Linked DNA regions of Homo sapiens: region 1 is linked to region 2. Evidence: fine-mapped expression QTL. Tissue or cell type: whole blood. Region 2 holds a variant in brackets; the other region holds the start of a gene. All regions are shown on one strand. Distances are from middle to middle.

Region 1 (8,057 bases), 23 kb before region 2:
AGGATGGTCTCGATCTCCTGACCTCGTGATCCGCCTGCCTTGGCCTCTCAAAGTGCTGGGATTACAGGCGTGAGCCACCACGCTTGGCCATTTTCCTGCTTGCTTTCATTTTTTTTTGAGACAGTGTCTTGCTCTGTCCCCCAGGCTGGAGTGCAGTGGTGTGATCACAGCTCACTGCAGCCTTGACCTCCTGGGCTCAAGTGATCCTCTTGGTTCAGCCTCCCAAGTAGCTGGGATCACAGATGCCCACCCAATCCCAGCTAATTAAAATTTTTTTAATTTTTTAAAATTTCTAGAAGTTTTTAAAATTCTCAACAAAGTGAGAACCTAGAGATAGGGTCTTGCTATGTTGGCCAGGCTGGTCTGCAACTCCTGGGCTCAAGCGATCTTCTTGCTTCAGCCTCCCAAAGTGCTGGGATTACAGGCGTGAGCCACTGTGCGCGGCCCCAATCCTTCTTTATTTTTACCTGTTTACATTTTATTTTATTTAACTCATTATTATAATTCTTTTAGAGACAAGGTCTCCCTCTGTCACCCAGGCTGCAGTGCAGTTGAGAGACCATAGTTCACTGCAGCCTTGACCTTCCTGGCTCAGGGGATCCTCCTGCCTCAGCCGCTGGAGTAGCTGGAACTACAGGTGTGCACCACCATGTCCCTAATTTTTAAATTTGCTGCAGAGATGGGGTCTGGCTATGTAGCCCTGGCTGGTCTTGAACTCCTGAGCTCAAGCGATCCTCTTGCCTCTGCCTCCCAAAGTGCACACCGGGCCCACATACCCTCTTTTAAATCAGAGTCAGCCGGGTGCGGTGGCTCACGCCTGTAATCCCAGCACTTTGGAAGGGTGAGATGGGTGGATCACCTGAGTTCAGGAGTTCGAGACCAGCCTGACCAATATGGTGAAATCCCGTCTCTACTAAAAATACCAAAATTAACTGGGCCTGGTGGCGTGAGCCTGTAATTCCCAACTACTTGGGAGGCCGAGGCAGGAGAATCACTTGAACCTGGGAAGGGGAGGTTGCAGTGAGCCGCCGAGATCATGACCCTGAACTCCAGCCTGGTGACAAAGTGAGACTCTGTCTCAAAAACCAAACAGCCAGGTGCGGTGGCACACCTGTAATCCCAGCACTTTGGGAGGCACGTAGATCATGAAGTCAGGAGTTTGAGACCGTCCTGGCCAATATGGTGAAACCCTGTCTCCACTAAACACAAAAATTAGCCGGGAATGGTGGTGCACGCCTGTAGTCCCAGCTTCTCGGGAGGCTGAGGCAGGAGAATCGCTTGAACCCTGTAGGTGGAGGTTGCAGTGAGCCAAGGTTACGCCACTGCACTCCAGCCTGGGCTACAGGTGAGACTCTGTCTCAAAAAAAAAAAAAAAAAATCAGTCCATCAATCAATCAATCAGAGTCATACTCTCTGCGTCCTCTGCCAGCAGCCGTATCCCCTCAACCTTGATTTCAGAAGAAAACCCAGGCATGGGCCCTCTATCCTTGACCACCCCACATCCTCTGCTGTCCCTTTCAGACAGTTCAAGCCTCACCACCTCCAGAGAAAGATATGCCTCTTTCTCTCCCTGCTGTCCGGGAGGCCCCTCACCAGTCACAGACTCCCCAGCTCCCAGCAAAGCACCTCCCACCCTGGGGAGTTTCTGGGGAACCCGGCCAGGTGGGCCAGCAGGGCGCAGTTGCTGATCCTAGCGCTCATCCCACGTGGCCTGGCCAGTGTGGGGGTGGCCCTTCTAGAAGCCTCACAGCATTGGCAGGCGGCCATCAGAGGCAGGCAGGAGGAGGAAGTGAGAGCTGCTGCAGTCAGGATGGAGGGATGGGGCTCCCTGGTCGTGGCTGTTCTGGAAATCGCACCGGTGACCTGTTCATTTCGAGCAGGCTCTTGCCTCTGTTCCCAGAGGAGGTCCTCAACTTAGGGGCGTCATTCTGCCCCCAAGGGACATTGGATGATGTTTGGGACATTTCTGGTTGTCATGACTTGGAGTGCTCCTGGCATGGAGTGGGTGGAGGCCAGGGACGCTGCTCAGTACCCTGCAGTGCCCAGGACGCTGCAGTCCAGCCTGGCAACAGAGCGAGACTCCGTCTCAAAAAACAAAAAAACAAAAAAAAAAGCAATCCACACCCTGAGTGGGGAAGGAGAGAGGAGAAGCATCCCAGGAGCTGGGGCCCTCCTGGTTCATACCATTTGCCCAGGATGCCCCACCCCAGAGAACAATCCAAGCCCAATGTCCACGGGTCCGAGGGAGGAGACCCTGAGTTAATTATTTGAAACAGAGTCTGTTCTCTGCTCACACCAGACACCAGAATAAACTCCTTTTTTTTGAGATGGAGTCTCGCTCTGTAGCCCAGGCTGGAGTGTAGTGGTGCAATCTTGGCTCACTGCAACCTCCACCTCCCGGGTGCCAGTTCAAGCAATTCTCCTGCCTCAGCCCCCTGAGTAGCTGGGATTACAGGCACGCGCCACCATGCCCAGCTAATTTTTGTATTTTTAGTAGAGACGGGGTTTCACCATGTTGGCCAGACTGGTCTTGCACTCCTGACCTCGTGATCCACCCGCCTCGGCCTCCCAAAGTGCTGGGATTACAGGCGTGAGCCACCGTGCCCAGCCTCAGGATAAACTCCTAATGGGGCAAACGGTATAAACCAGGAGGCCCCCAGCTCCTGGGATGCTTCTCCTCTCTCCTTCCCCACTCAGGGTGTGGATTGCTTTTTTTTTGTTTTTTTTGTGACAGAGTCTCGCTCTGTCACCAGGCTGGAGTGCAGCGGCGCCATCTCAGCTCACTGCAACCTCTGCCTCAAGGTGTGGATTTCAACGTGCGCAGTCTCCTGGGACCTCAGCAGGGCAGAGGATCATGGGATGCAGAGTCTCTTGGGGGGGTCCGTGGAATCCCCTAACTCGGGAGTCTCACCCAGGGTGATTCTGCCCCCGCCAAGGGACACTGGGTGATGTCTGCGGATACTTGTGGTTGTCACAACTGGGGGTGCTCAAGGCATGGAGTGGGTGGAGGCCAGGGACGCTGCTCAGCGCCCTGCAGTGCCCAGGGCGGCCCCAAATGTCAACCGCAGGAGTTAATTTCTGCCTCAACACCTGAATAGCGAATGCTCGTAGCAGAGATGCAACAACAGCCTTCTGGTGCAGTACGAAATCTCGAAAGACAGGCAGGCGCGGTGGCTCACGCCTGTTAATCCCCAAACTTTGGGAGGTCGAGGCAGGCGGATCACCTGAGGTCAGGAGTTCCAGACCAGCCTTGCCAACATGGTGAAACCCCATCTCTACTAAAAATACAAAAATTAGCCGGGCGTGGTGGCGGGCACCTGTAATCCCAGCTCCTCAGGAGGCTGAAGCAGGAGAATCGCTTGAACCTGGGAGGCGGAGGTTGCAGCGAGCCGAGATTGCGCCACTGCACTCCAGCCTGGGTGACAGCCAGGCCCGGTCGCAAACAAAACAAAATTAAAACCATGAAAGGAATCAGGATTTGCCAGGAGTAGCATTTTTGCTTGGTAAGAACAAAATTTTGTTTATACATGAAATAAAAAATATTTTATTAAACCTCACTGCAAAGTGGCAACTTTTTGCTAAATTCATAATTTAGTCTACACACAAGCTATGTACCCGTATGTGACTGCCAAGAGTTATATCTTTGCTTATTAAAAGCAAAGTGCAGTTCATACCTGAGATTTTTTTTCTGGATTTAACCAGGAGGGGAAATATTTTTGCTAGGTAAGTCCACATTTTACCTCACAGGCGAAACAGTTTACCGAACTTGACCACCAAAGAAATCGTTTTTTCCTTGGGAGATCCACATTTTAGTTCATACATGAGATGTGTTTCTGAATTTTAACTGCCAGGAGTAGTGTTTTTCCTTAGGGTAAGTTTCAGTTTCCACAGGAAAAATCTGAATTTATCTGCAAGGAGTAAAATTTTTGCTTAAGTCCAAATTGTACACGAAATATTTTACTAAATTTGAATATCTTTAACATTGGAAGTTCTTTTTTTTTAAACACTGGAAGCATTTTAAGAACTGCAAGACCAAATTTAAAAAAATAAAACCAGTAATATCATCGATGATTACCAGGTGTTACTGGAAATAATTCTGGCGCGGTTGGACAACCCCCCAAGCACCCGGGGGCCTACCCAGGGGAGGGGTCCCGCTGCGTGAAGGGACCCTAGGGAGGGCGACGTGGACCACGACAGACAAACGGGCACTCGAAGACCCCCGAAAATCGGCCCCAGCGAGCCGCCCCCGCCCCCAAGGCACGATTGTGGGGGCGGGGACGGCTCGGGGCGCGCGCAGCGCGTACCCGGCGCCACGGCAGCCCCGCCCCCAGAAGGACGCGCGCAGGAGGGGGCGTGGCCCGAGGCTCACCAACCAATCTCCAGAGAGCCTCTTCCTTTCCCTTTCCCTTTCACCAATCAGGCGCTGGGAGGGGCGGGCGCGACTTTTTTTCCCGGCGGCCCCGCGGCTCTGCCCCTCGTGCGGTCGCGTTCCCGGCGGCGCGGGGGGCGTGGCCTGGGCGCAGCATCTATAAAGGCGGGCGGCGGCAGAGGCGCCATTTTGCGAACGGCGAGCAGCGGCGGCGGCGCGGAGAGACGCAGCGGAGGTTTTCCTGGTTTCGGACCCCAGCGGCCGGATGGTGAAATCCTCCCTGCAGCGGATCCTCAATAGCCACTGCTTCGCCAGAGAGAAGGAAGGGGATAAACCCAGCGCCACCATCCACGCCAGCCGCACCATGCCGCTCCTAAGCCTGCACAGCCGCGGCGGCAGCAGCAGTGAGAGGTAAGTGCCCCGCCCCCGTCCGAAGCTTCCAGAAGCGCCGGCCGCGCAGGCCTGCGGGGGGCCGTCCTCGGGGCGCCAGATAGGTCCCCGGCGCGCGAGATCCGCCCCTTTGTCAAGGCCAGAATCGCGCCGGGGACGAGGTAGGCGCAGGGCGGGCCTGGAGGTCCCCCCCGGCCTTAGCAGTGCTCTCGGGGGAGTCGGGTTTGGGGGGCAAGGGTGCGGAGTTGGATTTGGGGGGCACCGTCCGGGGCGCCTGATTTGCGGGAGGGGCATGGGTCGGAGGTCGGATTTGGGCGCAGGACGGGGAGTCGGGGGAGGCGTGTGTCTTTTGCGGGGTTCGCGGGATGGGACTCGGCTTCGGAGGAGGGGAGAGGCTTCTGGTCGAGGGTTGGATTTGCGGGGCGCAGACTGGGAATTCGGTTTGGAGGAAGGGTGTGCGGTCGGGTCGGATTTGGGAGGCGCAGGATGGGGCAATCTGGTTGGGGGCGGGGTCGGCCTTGGGGGGCTGGTCCGCGGACAGGCAGGGCCCGCGGGGCTGGTGAATCTGCACTTTTCGGTCCCGGCCGTCGAGCGTGCGCTGCGGGAGCGGGGAGCGCTTTGCGGTGGACGAGCTCCCGCGGGTCCCTGTTGCCTCGATGTGGCCCCTGCACGCGACGGACCTCGTGGGCCCCGTTTTTCGCCCCTGAGCGAGTCGGTCTGGATGGCCCGGGACGCGCCGGGCGAGGCCGCGCACGTAGACGGCACCCAGGGCTTCTCCGCGGGGGCCGCCGGGGAGCTGGGGGTGGCGCACTCCGACAGCCCGGCAGCGCCCTGGGAAGACCCCCGCCGCTTCCCGGGAAGACGCGTCCCGCTTCCGGGGGCGCGGGTGCCAGCTGCGGTTGTGGGGGAGCCCGCGGGGTCTCGGTCGAGCTTTCCCGACTGCGTCCCCCGAGGTGGGCGTCGCTCAGCCCCGGATCGGGAGGTTGGGCCGCGGTGCTGGCGGTGCCGCGGTTTGGGGGCCGTGCAAAATGGAGGCAACTTTGGGGCCTGTTTACCCTGCGCAGCAAATGGCTGCTGGCGCTGCCGGCTGCGCGATTGTGAAAATCTCCCCCGGGGCGCGAGGCCGCGTCTGCCTGGATGACGCAACCGGGAGGGCCCGGGCCTGGAGCGGGGGCGGGGGGGCGGGCGGCCGGGAGCCGGAGCGGGGCGCGTCCTCCATGAGGTCAGGCTAGGCCCGCCCGGTCTTCGCGGGGACAAGCAAGAGTCCCAGATTTTGGCCGTAGTGCAGGGTGGAAAGGGGAAGCCGCGACAGAACTGAAAAGGGGAAGCGCTGGCTGTCTTGGTGGCCGGGGGGTGAGGCTCTGCCCCGGCGGGGCTGCGTGAGGGGAAGGGGCCCCCCGCCCTGGGAAGGTTGGGCTGTCCTGGGCGGCGCCGCCCGAGGAGTCGGGGCTCAGTGACTGCTGCCCTTGTAGGTGCTTGGGGCAGGCGTTGGAGCTGCCTTCGGGAAGCCTCGGGGGTGTGGGACCGGGTGGGCCCCTGCCTGGGCGGGGCGGGGTCTTTTGGCCGAGGCAGGGGTGGGGATGTGCTGAAGGCCGCCCGGACGCCCTGGAGGGGTCTCCGCCCGGAGCCTGGCGCTGCCTCGTGACCTGCATCATCTTCAGTTCCAGGGTCTCCCTCCACTGCTGTAGTAACCCGGGTCCGGGGCCTCGGTGGTGCTCCTGATGCCCCTCACCCACCCCTGAAGATCCCAGGTGGGCGAGGGAATAGTCAGAGGGATCACAATCTTTCAGCTAACTTATTCTACTCCGTGAGTATGGGGCCGGGCCTGCTGGGGCTGCTCTGGGGCCACAGGTACTTTCTTGTGCACCTTGCTGCCCGTACCTGTGATTGAATGTAATCGTGGGAACCCTGAGTTTCATCAGAGCCGGCGCACAGTCTCCTGCAGCCCAGGCGTTGCCTGAGCTCAACACGGCCTAGGCCCAAGCTTTAGCGCTGCCGGGTTCTTGGAGTCCTGTGGGGTGAGTCAGGGTTCTGAATTGGGCTGCACCCCCTGGACAGGATGATCGGCTGAATGTAACAGAGGAACTAACGTCCAACGACAAGACGAGGATTCTCAACGTCCAGTCCAGGCTCACAGACGCCAAACGCATTAACTGGCGAACAGTGCTGAGTGGCGGCAGCCTCTACATCGAGATCCCGGGCGGCGCGCTGCCCGAGGGGAGCAAGGACAGGTGAGGGGCAAGGACAGGCAGGGAGTGCTCACCCAGGGGAGCAGGGACCAGGTGAGGGGCAAGGACAGGCGGGGAGTGCTCACCCAGGGGAGCAGGGACCAGGTGCGGGTTGCTGCCCAAGGGGTGCAGGGACAGATGAGGGAGGGCACTGCCTTCAGGCAGCACATATGGGGGCCACCATCGCTTTGTTGGTGGGGACAGGGTCCCCCCTTTTTTTTTTTTTTGAGATGGAGTCTTGCTTTTGTTGCCCAGGCTGGAGTGCAGTGGCATGATCTTGGCTCACTGCAACCTCTGCCTTCCGGGTTCAAGCGATTCTCCTGCCTCAGCCTCCCGAGTAGCTGGGCTTACAGGCGCCCGCCACCGATGCCCAGCTAATTTTTGTGTTTTTAGTAGAGACGAGGTTTCGCTATGTTGGCCAGGCTGGTCTTGAACTCCTGACCTCGTGATCCGCCCACCTCGGCCTCCCAAAGTGCTGGGATTACAGGCGTGAGCTACCGCTCCCGGCCTGGGGTCCCTTTTTAAAAAGTGCACTCCAAATTCGTACCCTGGGATTCTACCCTCCAAGGGATGCCAGGCAGTGTCAGAGCTTTTCTGTCATGGGGCATGCACGTGGGTGGGTGCAGCGGTGCTGCTCAACACTGTGGTGTCAGGACGGCCCCACCCAGAGGACGATCTGGGCCCCAGGGGGACCCTGGAGTAGAGCGGGCCTCAGGGTAGCTGCTAAGGCCCAGGAGGTAGGCAGGTGGGTCGGGCCAGCCGAGACGCTGACACTCGCTGCAGCTTTGCAGTTCTCCTGGAGTTCGCTGAGGAGCAGCTGCGAGCCGACCATGTCTTCATTTGCTTCCACAAGAACCGCGAGGACAGAGGTAGGTGACCCGTATCGCCTGCAGTAGGGTGCGTGGGGGTGCCTGCGCCGCCCCTTCATTCTCAGCCCGCAGGCACGGTCTCCCTGCGGGGGTGGGGGGTGCGGGCGGGGGGTTCTGGTCGGCAGGGGTTCTGACGGCTTCTCCCCCGCAGCCGCCTTGCTCCGAACCTTCAGCTTTTTGGGCTTTGAGATTGTGAGACCG
Region 2 (8,057 bases):
CCCCACCTCTGCAGGTGCAGAGACCCAGCTTCCTCCATCACCTTCTCCCGAGGACCCGGGTCCAGGCCTCCCTGCAGGGTGAAGCCCTTGTTCCGGCCTTGTTCTTGTCACTACACTGCACCGCACGTAGCCGGGATCCCCGGGAACCCCCTGTGCTCTTTGGTCTCGTTCCCCACCTGAGCCACGGGTCAGCAGGGCCGGCCATGATGGGGCCACGCTCAGGGCTTGTCTGAGGCCGGCTCAGAGGTCATGTGTACCTAGGGGCAAAAGTCCCTCCAGTAGACCCATTTGGAAGGACACTCAGCACCCCAGAAGCCATGGTTCTGGGCCGGGGCAGGGTGGCCACCTCTCCCTTGTGGGGTGGCCCTCTCTTGCCTGCTGTTCTGGGAAGCACGTGGCAGCGGAGGGAGGCGGAGGGCTGGGGTGATGGCTCCTTCTTGTGGACAGCCCTGCTGGGCTGTGGGGAGGACGGAGGACAGGGCGTGTGGACCCCTGACTGTGACCACCGTGTGTGCTGGGTCCTCAGCAAGACCTGAGCCCAGGCCCCGAGGTCGGCTGGGAGATGCTCAGCTGAGCAGGCGCTGGGGTGGGCTCTGTGTCCCAGGTGTGAGCTGTGTCTCAGTTATGCGTTGTGCCTGTCCCAGGTGTGAACTGAGCATGTCCCTGGTGTGAGCTGTGCTCTCACGAGAGCCCTGCCTGCCTCTGTGGTCAGCTCTGGTGCCCAGGGCTTGGTTTTAGTGTCAGCTGGGTGTGAGGGTGTGTGTCTCGGGTGTGAGCTGTGTGTGTCCCAGATGTGAGTTCTGTGTTCTGGGTGTGAGCTGTGTGTTCCAGTGTGAGCTGAGTGTGTCCTGGGTGTGAGCTGTATCCCGGGTGTGAGCTGTGTGTTCCACTGTGAGCTGTCCTTGTATCAGGTGTGAGCTGAGTGTGTCCTGCGTATGAGCTGTGTGTCCCGGGTGTGAGCTCTGTGTTCCGGGTGTGAGCTGTGTGTCCCGGGTGTGAGCTGTGTTTCCCGGGTGTAAGCTGTGTGTCCCGGGTGTGAGCTGTGTGTTCTGGGTGTGAGCTGTGTGTGTCCTGGGTGTGAGCTGTGTGTCCCGGGTGTGAGTTGCGCCTGTCCCGGGTGTGAGCTTTGCTCTCACGAGAGCCCTGCCTGCCCCCTGCGGTCAGCTCTGGTGCCCCGGGTCTGGTTTTAGTGTCGGCTGGGTGTGAGGTGTGTTGCACCTGTGTGATTGGGTTCCAGGTGTGAGTGTGTCTCTGGGTGTGAGGTGTAGGACGGCCAGGTGTGAGCAATGCAGACTTTCTGCGCACCCTCCCCTTGGGGCTGTGGGGCCCTTTGTGGGACCCGGGTGTCCACCGTCTCCCCGATGCGATCTGTGTACAAAGGGCTGGGGGAGCGGAAGCCCAGGGCTTGGGGGCAGCAGTCTTGTGCCTCCTGGGTGTGAATTGCGGGCCCTGAGGATCCTGGGGTCTCTGAGCGCCCCCAGCCACCCCGGGTTGGTAGACGGGAGCCCATCCCCCCATCCTTGCAGCCCGCACCCCCACCCCCCAGCTCAGCCACCATAGCAGGGACAGGAAGACGGGTTGAAATCTTTAGAAAACGCTTGAGAAACTGCAAAAAAGACGCATGCTGATGAAAAACAGTCCTGCGGTTGGGCGTCTACAAAAAAAGGGGAAGTTCTGCCTGGGGAGCGCCGTGCAGCCGTCCCCTTCCCCTCCGGGAAATGCATAGGTGGACACGCGAGCGGCCGGCCCGCGGGGGAGGGGAGGGGAGGGTCCGCCCTGGGGACCCCTCAGATCATCTTCATGTTGAACTTGCGCGCGCCTCCCTGGCCCGCCGCGGCGGCCGGCCCATCCACCTTGCGGAAGGAGTACTCCACCGAGAAGTTGTTTTTGTGCTGCCCGCGGCCGCGGCTCCACACGAACAGCAGCACGAAGCAGAAGAGGACCACGCCCAGGAAGGTGATGCAGCCCATGGCGGTGGACACCAGGATGGTGGTGAGGTCGAGCGGCGCGCGCAGGGCCGCCAGCGTCTCGTTGTGGGCCTCGCCCGGGGTCCGGTTGGCGGCCGGCTCGGGGCGCACGGTCAGCGTGGCGAAGTAGGTGTCGTTGCCGCCCGCGTTGCTGGCCACGCACGTGTAGGTGCCGCTGTCCTGCGGCCGCGCGTCCTGGATCTCCAGCGTCCCCCCGGGGAGCACGCGCGCCCGGCCCGCGCTGGTGGCCGTCACCGGCCGGTGCTGGGGGGTCACCCAGGCCACGGTGGGCGCCGGCTCGCCCTCGGCGCGGCAGAGGAAGCGGACGTCTTCGCCCGCGGTGGCCGTGACGCGCTGCAGCCGCCGCTCCCGGATCTTGGGTTTGCGGCACACGAAGTACTCGAACAGCACGGAGTCCGGCAGGTTTCGCAGCGCGTCGCCGCGCACCTCGGCCGGGGTGGCGCAGGCCGGCAGCCGCCCGTCGAAGTTGAGGGTCTTGCGACGCTGCACGATCCACAGCAGGCGACAGTCGCAGGCCAGCGGGTTCCCGTCCACGCGCAGCGTCTCTAGCGTGTTCACCGAGTGGAAGGTGCTCTCCTCCAACGTGGAGAGCAGGTTGTTGGAGAGGTTGAGCAGGCGGATCTGGCGCAGGCCCAGGAAGGCCTGCGGCTCCACCACAGCCAGCAGGGCCCCGGCCAGGTGCAGCTCGCGCAGGCGGACCAGGTCCCGGAACGACCCCCGCGGCACCGTGCTGATGGGGTTGTGCGACAGATTGAGGCAGGTGAGGTGCGCCTGGTGCCGCAGCGCGGCGGCCGGCACGGCGGTGATGTTGGTGTGGGTGACCGACAGCGAGGTCAGGTTCAGGCCCCGCAGGCTGCCCGCCGCCACCTCCTCCAGCAGCGGCCAGTTGTCAATCTCCAGGTGCAGCAGCCCGGGCAGCCTGCGGAAGTTCTGGTCCTCCAGGGAGGCGATGGCCAGGTGGCGCAGCCGCAGGGCGCCCAGGCTGCGCAGATGGCCCAGCGACTCCCCGGACAGAGCCGTGAGGTTGCAGCGCTCCAGGGTCAGCTCCTCCAGGGCCAGCAGCCCCGCGAAGGCGCGGCGCGAGACGAATACCAGGTCGTTGTCGCCCACTTCCAGCCGGCGCAGGCTGTGCAGGTCCTGGAAAGTGTAGTCCAGCAGGATTACCAGCTTGTTCTCGCTCAGGTCCAGCAGCGTGAGGTTGTCCAGGCGCGTGAAGACCCCGGGCGGGATGAGCTTCAGCTGGTTGCCACGGAGACGCAGGACGCGCAGGCGCGGCAGGTTGGCGAAGGCGCCGGGCTCCACGTGCGCGATGGCGTTCTCGCTCAGGTCCAGCTCCTCCAGCGCGGGCAGCGCGGCCAGGTCGCCCGGGTTCAGGCAGCGGATGCGGTTGCGGCTGAGCTCCAGCAGGCGGGTCTCGGCCGGGATGCCGTCGGGCACGGCGGTCAGGCGGCGGCGCGTGCAGGCCACCGCGCGGGTCTGCACGGTGCACTCGCAGCGGGCCGGGCAGCCTCCAGCCGGGGGCGGCGCCGCGGGCAGCAGGAGCAGGGGCAGGCTCAGGACGCACAGCCAGCAGGTCATGGTGCGGAGCGTGGGCCTAGGGCCGCGCCACCATCCTCCTGCGCACCTGCGGGCGGGCGGGGAGCGGGCAGCGTTAGCACCGTTAGCACCCCTCCGCGGCGCCTCTGCCGCCAGCCCGCCCCTAACCCGTCCCAGCACGGCGGCTCGCTCCTGTAAACCCAGCATTTTGGGAGGCTGAGATGGAAGAATTGCTTGAGTTCAAGAGTTCGAGACCAGCCTGCACAACATAGCAAGACTCCCATCTCTACAAAAAAATAAAAGATGAGCCGCATGTGGTGGTGTAGGCCTGTGGTCCCAGCTACTCAGGAGGCTGAGGCAGGAGGATGGCTTGGGCCCAGGAGGTGGAGGCTGCAGTGAGATATGCTTGTGCCACTGCACTCCAGCCTGGGCAACACGGTGAGACCCCTGTCTCTTAAAAAAAAAAAAATTAAAAATTAGCTGGTTTTCAAGTAATTGTGAAATATTGAAAAGTTTACCCAGGCATGGTGGCCTGCACCTGTGGTCCCAGCTACTCAGGAGGCTGAGCCAGGAGGATTGCTTGAGCCCAGGGGGTTGAGGCCACAGTGAGCTGTGATCGTGCCACTGCACTCCAGCCTGGGAGATAGAGCAAAAAACCCTGTCTCAAAAAAAAAAAAAAAAAAAAAAAAAAGCAGCATTGATCCACCG[T/C]GTGGCTGCAATTCCAATCTCCTGGGTTTTTTTGTTTTGTTTTGTTTGTGTTTGTTTGTCTGTTTGAGATGGAGGCTCACTCTGTCATCCAGGCTGGAGTGCAGTGGCTTGATCTCGGCTCACTGAAACCTCCACCTCCCGGGTTCAAGCAATTCTCCTGCCTCAGCCTCCTGAGTAGCTGGGATTACAGGTGCCCGCCACCACGTCCGGCTAATTTTTGTATTTTTAGTAGAGACGGGGTTTTACCATATTGGCCAGGTTGGTCTCAAACTCCTGACCTCAGGTGATCCACCTGCCTCCGCCTCCCAAAGTGCTGGGATTACAGGTGTGAGCCACCGCGCCCACCCGCTCCTGGGTGTCTTTGCATAAGAGAATGGAACACACAGCGCACGGAAAACCTGGGAACATTCACAGCCGCATCTGTAACAGCCAAACAGTGGAAAAGGCTGGAATGTGCCCCAAGGAATGGATGGGTCAGCACCGTGCAGCCACCCACACACGAACACGACTCAGCCATGAAAAGGAGTGAGGCTCTGACCCAGGCCACGGTGGGGATGCACCTTGAGGACGCCATGCTCAGTGAGAGACGCGACACAAAAGGCCACACTGTATGACCCCGTTTCTTTCTTTCTTTCTTTTTGAGACGGAGTCTTGCTCTGTCACCCAGGCTGGAGTGCGGTGGCACAATCTCACCTCACTGCAAGCTCTGCCTCCCGGGTTCACGCCATTCTCCTGCCTCAGCCTCCCGAGTAACTGGGGCTACAGGTGCCAGCCACCACGCCTGGCTAATTTTTTGTGTTTTTAGTAGAGACGGGATTTCACCGTGTTAGCCAGGATGGTCTCGATCTCCTGACCTCGTGATCCACCCTCCTTGGCCTCCCAAAGTGCTGGGATTACAGGAGTGAGCCACCGCGCCTGGCCTTTTTTTTTTTTTGGAGACAGAGTCTCACTCTGGCCCAGGCTGGAATGCAGTGGTGCGATCTCAGCTCACTGCAAGCTCCCCCTCCCCAGGGTTTAAGTGATTCTCCTGCCTCAGCCTCCTGAGTAGCTGGGACTACAGGCACCCGCCACCATGCCCAGCTAATTTTTGTAGTTTTAGTACAGATGGGGTTTTGCCATGTTGGCCAGGCTGGTCTTGAACTCCTGACCTCGGGTAATCCACCGGCCTTGGCCTCCCAAAGTGCTGGGATTACAGGTGTGAGCCACCGCGCCCGTCCGTGTGATCTCATTTCTATGAAATGTCCAGGACAGGCCCATCCACAGACAGGGAGATGACATTTGATCTCAGACCCTGTTGTAGGTGGAACTGTGTTCCCGCAAATGTTCAAGGCCGGGCGCGGTGGCTCACGCCTGTAAATCCAGCATTTTGGGAGGCCGAGGTGGGTGGATCACCTGAGGTCAGGAGTTCGAGACCAGCCTGGGCAACATGGGGAACCCCCGTCTCAACTAAAAATACAAAAGTTAGCCTGGCGTGGTGGCGCGCATCTATAGTCCTAACTAGGGGAATCTGGGGTGGGAGGATCGCTTGATCCCAGGAGTTGAGGCTTCAGTGAGCTGTGATCGTGCCACTGCGCTCTAGCCACTGGGCAACAGAGTGAGACTGTCTCAAGGGAAAAAAAAAGGTATGTTCACGTCCTGCCCTCCGTGCCTGCTGTGCACGGGACCTCATTTGGAATCAGGGTCTTTACAGATGTGCTCAGGGCTAGATGAGACTGCAGTGGATTACAGTGAGCCTTTTCCAACGACTCCTGTCCTTACAACAAGAGGGAGACTTGGACACACACCTAGCCCTATACAGGGGAAATAGAGCCGTGTGAACACGGAGGCAGAGGCTAGGGTGACACAGCCACAAGCCGGGGATTGCTGAGAGCCCCAGGAAGCCGGGAGAGGCAGGAAGGACGCGCCCCGGGAGCTTCCAGAGGGCCCCCGGCCCTGCGGACACCTTGATTTTGGACTTCCGCCTCCGGAGCTGGGAAGGCATATATTTCGGTTGTTTTAAACCCCCCGGGGTTTGTGGCGCCGTGTTCTGGCAGGAAACAGGCCGACCCAAAAGTTGAACAGAGCCCATGGTTTTCTGGAGGAAGGGTGTGTGGGCTGGGGGAACAGCCACGGCAGAGGCCCCGAGGTGTGGCGGGAGTCTGGTGAAGCTAAAGGAGAGAGTGGAGGGGGGCGGGGAGCTGGGTTAGGAGGGGCCTCTGGGTGGGGGGCAGATGACATGGAGCCGTGGTGGCCCAGAGGAACAGGCGCCAATGCTCCGTGGGTCCTGGTAGCTGTGCCTCCTGGGCTGTTTCCGTCTCTCCTGGGAGCCTGCTGCACCCTTACCAGCTCTTCTTGGCTGCAGCCAAGATTCTGGGGGCTGGGGTGGCGGGTGGAGGTGGGGTTGGAGGGAGCGGGAGGAAGCAGCCAGAACTACCAGGCGGCATTGCCCAGCTTCTTCTGCTTGGCCGCCTCCCCCGCCAGCCGGCCGGCTATTTTTGGCATCTTGGCAGCTGAGCCCCCCTCGGCATCCCCCCAGGCCCCGTGGCCCAAACCAGGTTGTGCGTCTCCTCACGGTTCCCACTGGCCTTCGATCCTCATTTGCTAAATATCTGCGAAGGCAGCTCCCGCCTCCCCAGTGCCTACGCGAATTTAATCCCAGAGCGAACAGACGCGGAGCCCCGGGAGACTGCTTCATGTCAGAGATGAATTGTACGTAAGTGAGGACAGGGTTTGTATCTTGCAGCTGTAATTCATTAAGATGAGGTCACGCAGGAGCAGGGAGAGCCCTAATTCAATGACTGGCATCCTTATAAGAGGGAAATCTGGACACAGAGACACAGGCAACGGCCAAGTCACAACACAGGCAGAGACTGGAGTGATTCATCCACAAGTCAAGTGACACCAGGGATGGCCAGCTACCACCGGAAGCTGGAAGAGTCAGAAAGGGTCTCCCCAAAAGCCCCCAAAGGAAGCTGGACCTGCTTGAGCTTCGACTTCCAGACTCCAGAACTGTGAGAGCAGCAGCTCCTCTTGCCCGGCGCGGTGGCTCACGCCTGTCATCCCAGCACTTCGGGAGGCTGAGGCGGGTGGATCACTTGAGGTCAGGAGTTCGAGAGCAGCCTAAGCAACATGGAGAAACCCTGTCTCTACTAAAAAATACAAAAACTAGCCGGGCGTGGTGATGGGCGCCTGTAATCCCAGCTCCTTGTGAGGCTGAGGGAGGAGAATCGCTTGAACCTGGCAGGCGGAGGTGGCAGTGAGCCGAGATTGTGCCACTGCACTCCAGCCTGGGCGACAAGAGGGGAAACTCCGTCTCAATAAATACATAAATAAATAAGGTGAAACGCCAAACTGAATTCTGGATTTAGGTGGACAGGACACATATGTACAGATGCCAAAACTGGGCATTCACATGCCACGTGGAACAGCACAGAGTGTGGTGGAAAGGAAGGTGTCGCAGGTGAGAATGTGGTCCCACCGAGAGAAAAGCGAGGGGCCCCTGGTTCCCAGGAGGCCTTGGTCCTCCTGCCCCCAGCTTGGGAACATAGGAAACTCGAGGGAGGGAGGAAGGGAGGGAGCGAGAGAGGGGGCATGCCCCCCCCAACCCCGGAATCATCCTTAATCCCAACCTGGGCATGTTACAGGGAAGGCAATCCTTCCCTCCCAGCAAGCTCCCTCCCAGCACTGTTTTTCTGGGTCATTCTCTCCCGAGCTGCTGCCCTGCCGACAGCACACTCAGGGGCTGTGTCACGGGAGGGGACAAGAGTGCTAGGGCGGTGATGGCACTTTTATCTGCCCCCCGACCCTGCACCTCCCCCCTTACTGTCCGCTCCACAGTGTTTACAA

Evidence for each region. PIP is the estimated chance that this variant, and not a neighbour inherited with it, causes the effect.
Region 1: it holds the start of OAZ1, and the variant in region 2 is fine-mapped to the expression of OAZ1 in whole blood (INTERVAL, PIP above 0.99).

Annotation. Positions count from the first base shown.
Region 1 is chr19:2,264,965-2,273,021 of GRCh38, forward strand. OAZ1 (ornithine decarboxylase antizyme 1) reads left to right here and starts at 4,522. Exons shown (of 5, transcript NM_004152.3): 1 at 4,522-4,780; 2 at 6,421-6,566; 3 at 6,818-6,990; 4 at 7,771-7,856; 5 at 8,008-8,057. The coding sequence starts at 4,635. It overlaps LOC105372240 (a long non-coding RNA gene), which reads right to left and starts at 4,289. Exons shown (of 2, transcript XR_936242.3): 1 at 4,138-4,289; 2 at 3,529-3,908. RefSeq lists enhancers at 1,556-1,725, 4,221-4,835, 7,573-7,632, 7,643-7,702 and silencers at 4,089-4,578, 5,544-5,603, 5,814-6,013, 6,024-6,363, 7,903-8,052.
Region 2 is chr19:2,288,211-2,296,267 of GRCh38, forward strand. It overlaps LINGO3 (leucine rich repeat and Ig domain containing 3), which reads right to left. Exons shown (of 2, transcript NM_001101391.3): 2 at 1-3,612. The coding sequence starts at 3,566. The coding sequence ends at 1,788. Among named protein-coding and RNA genes, the nearest start is that of PEAK3, 10 kb to the left of the region's middle. RefSeq lists silencers at 1,716-1,825, 2,286-2,355. The variant T/C (reference allele first, on the strand shown) is at 4,233.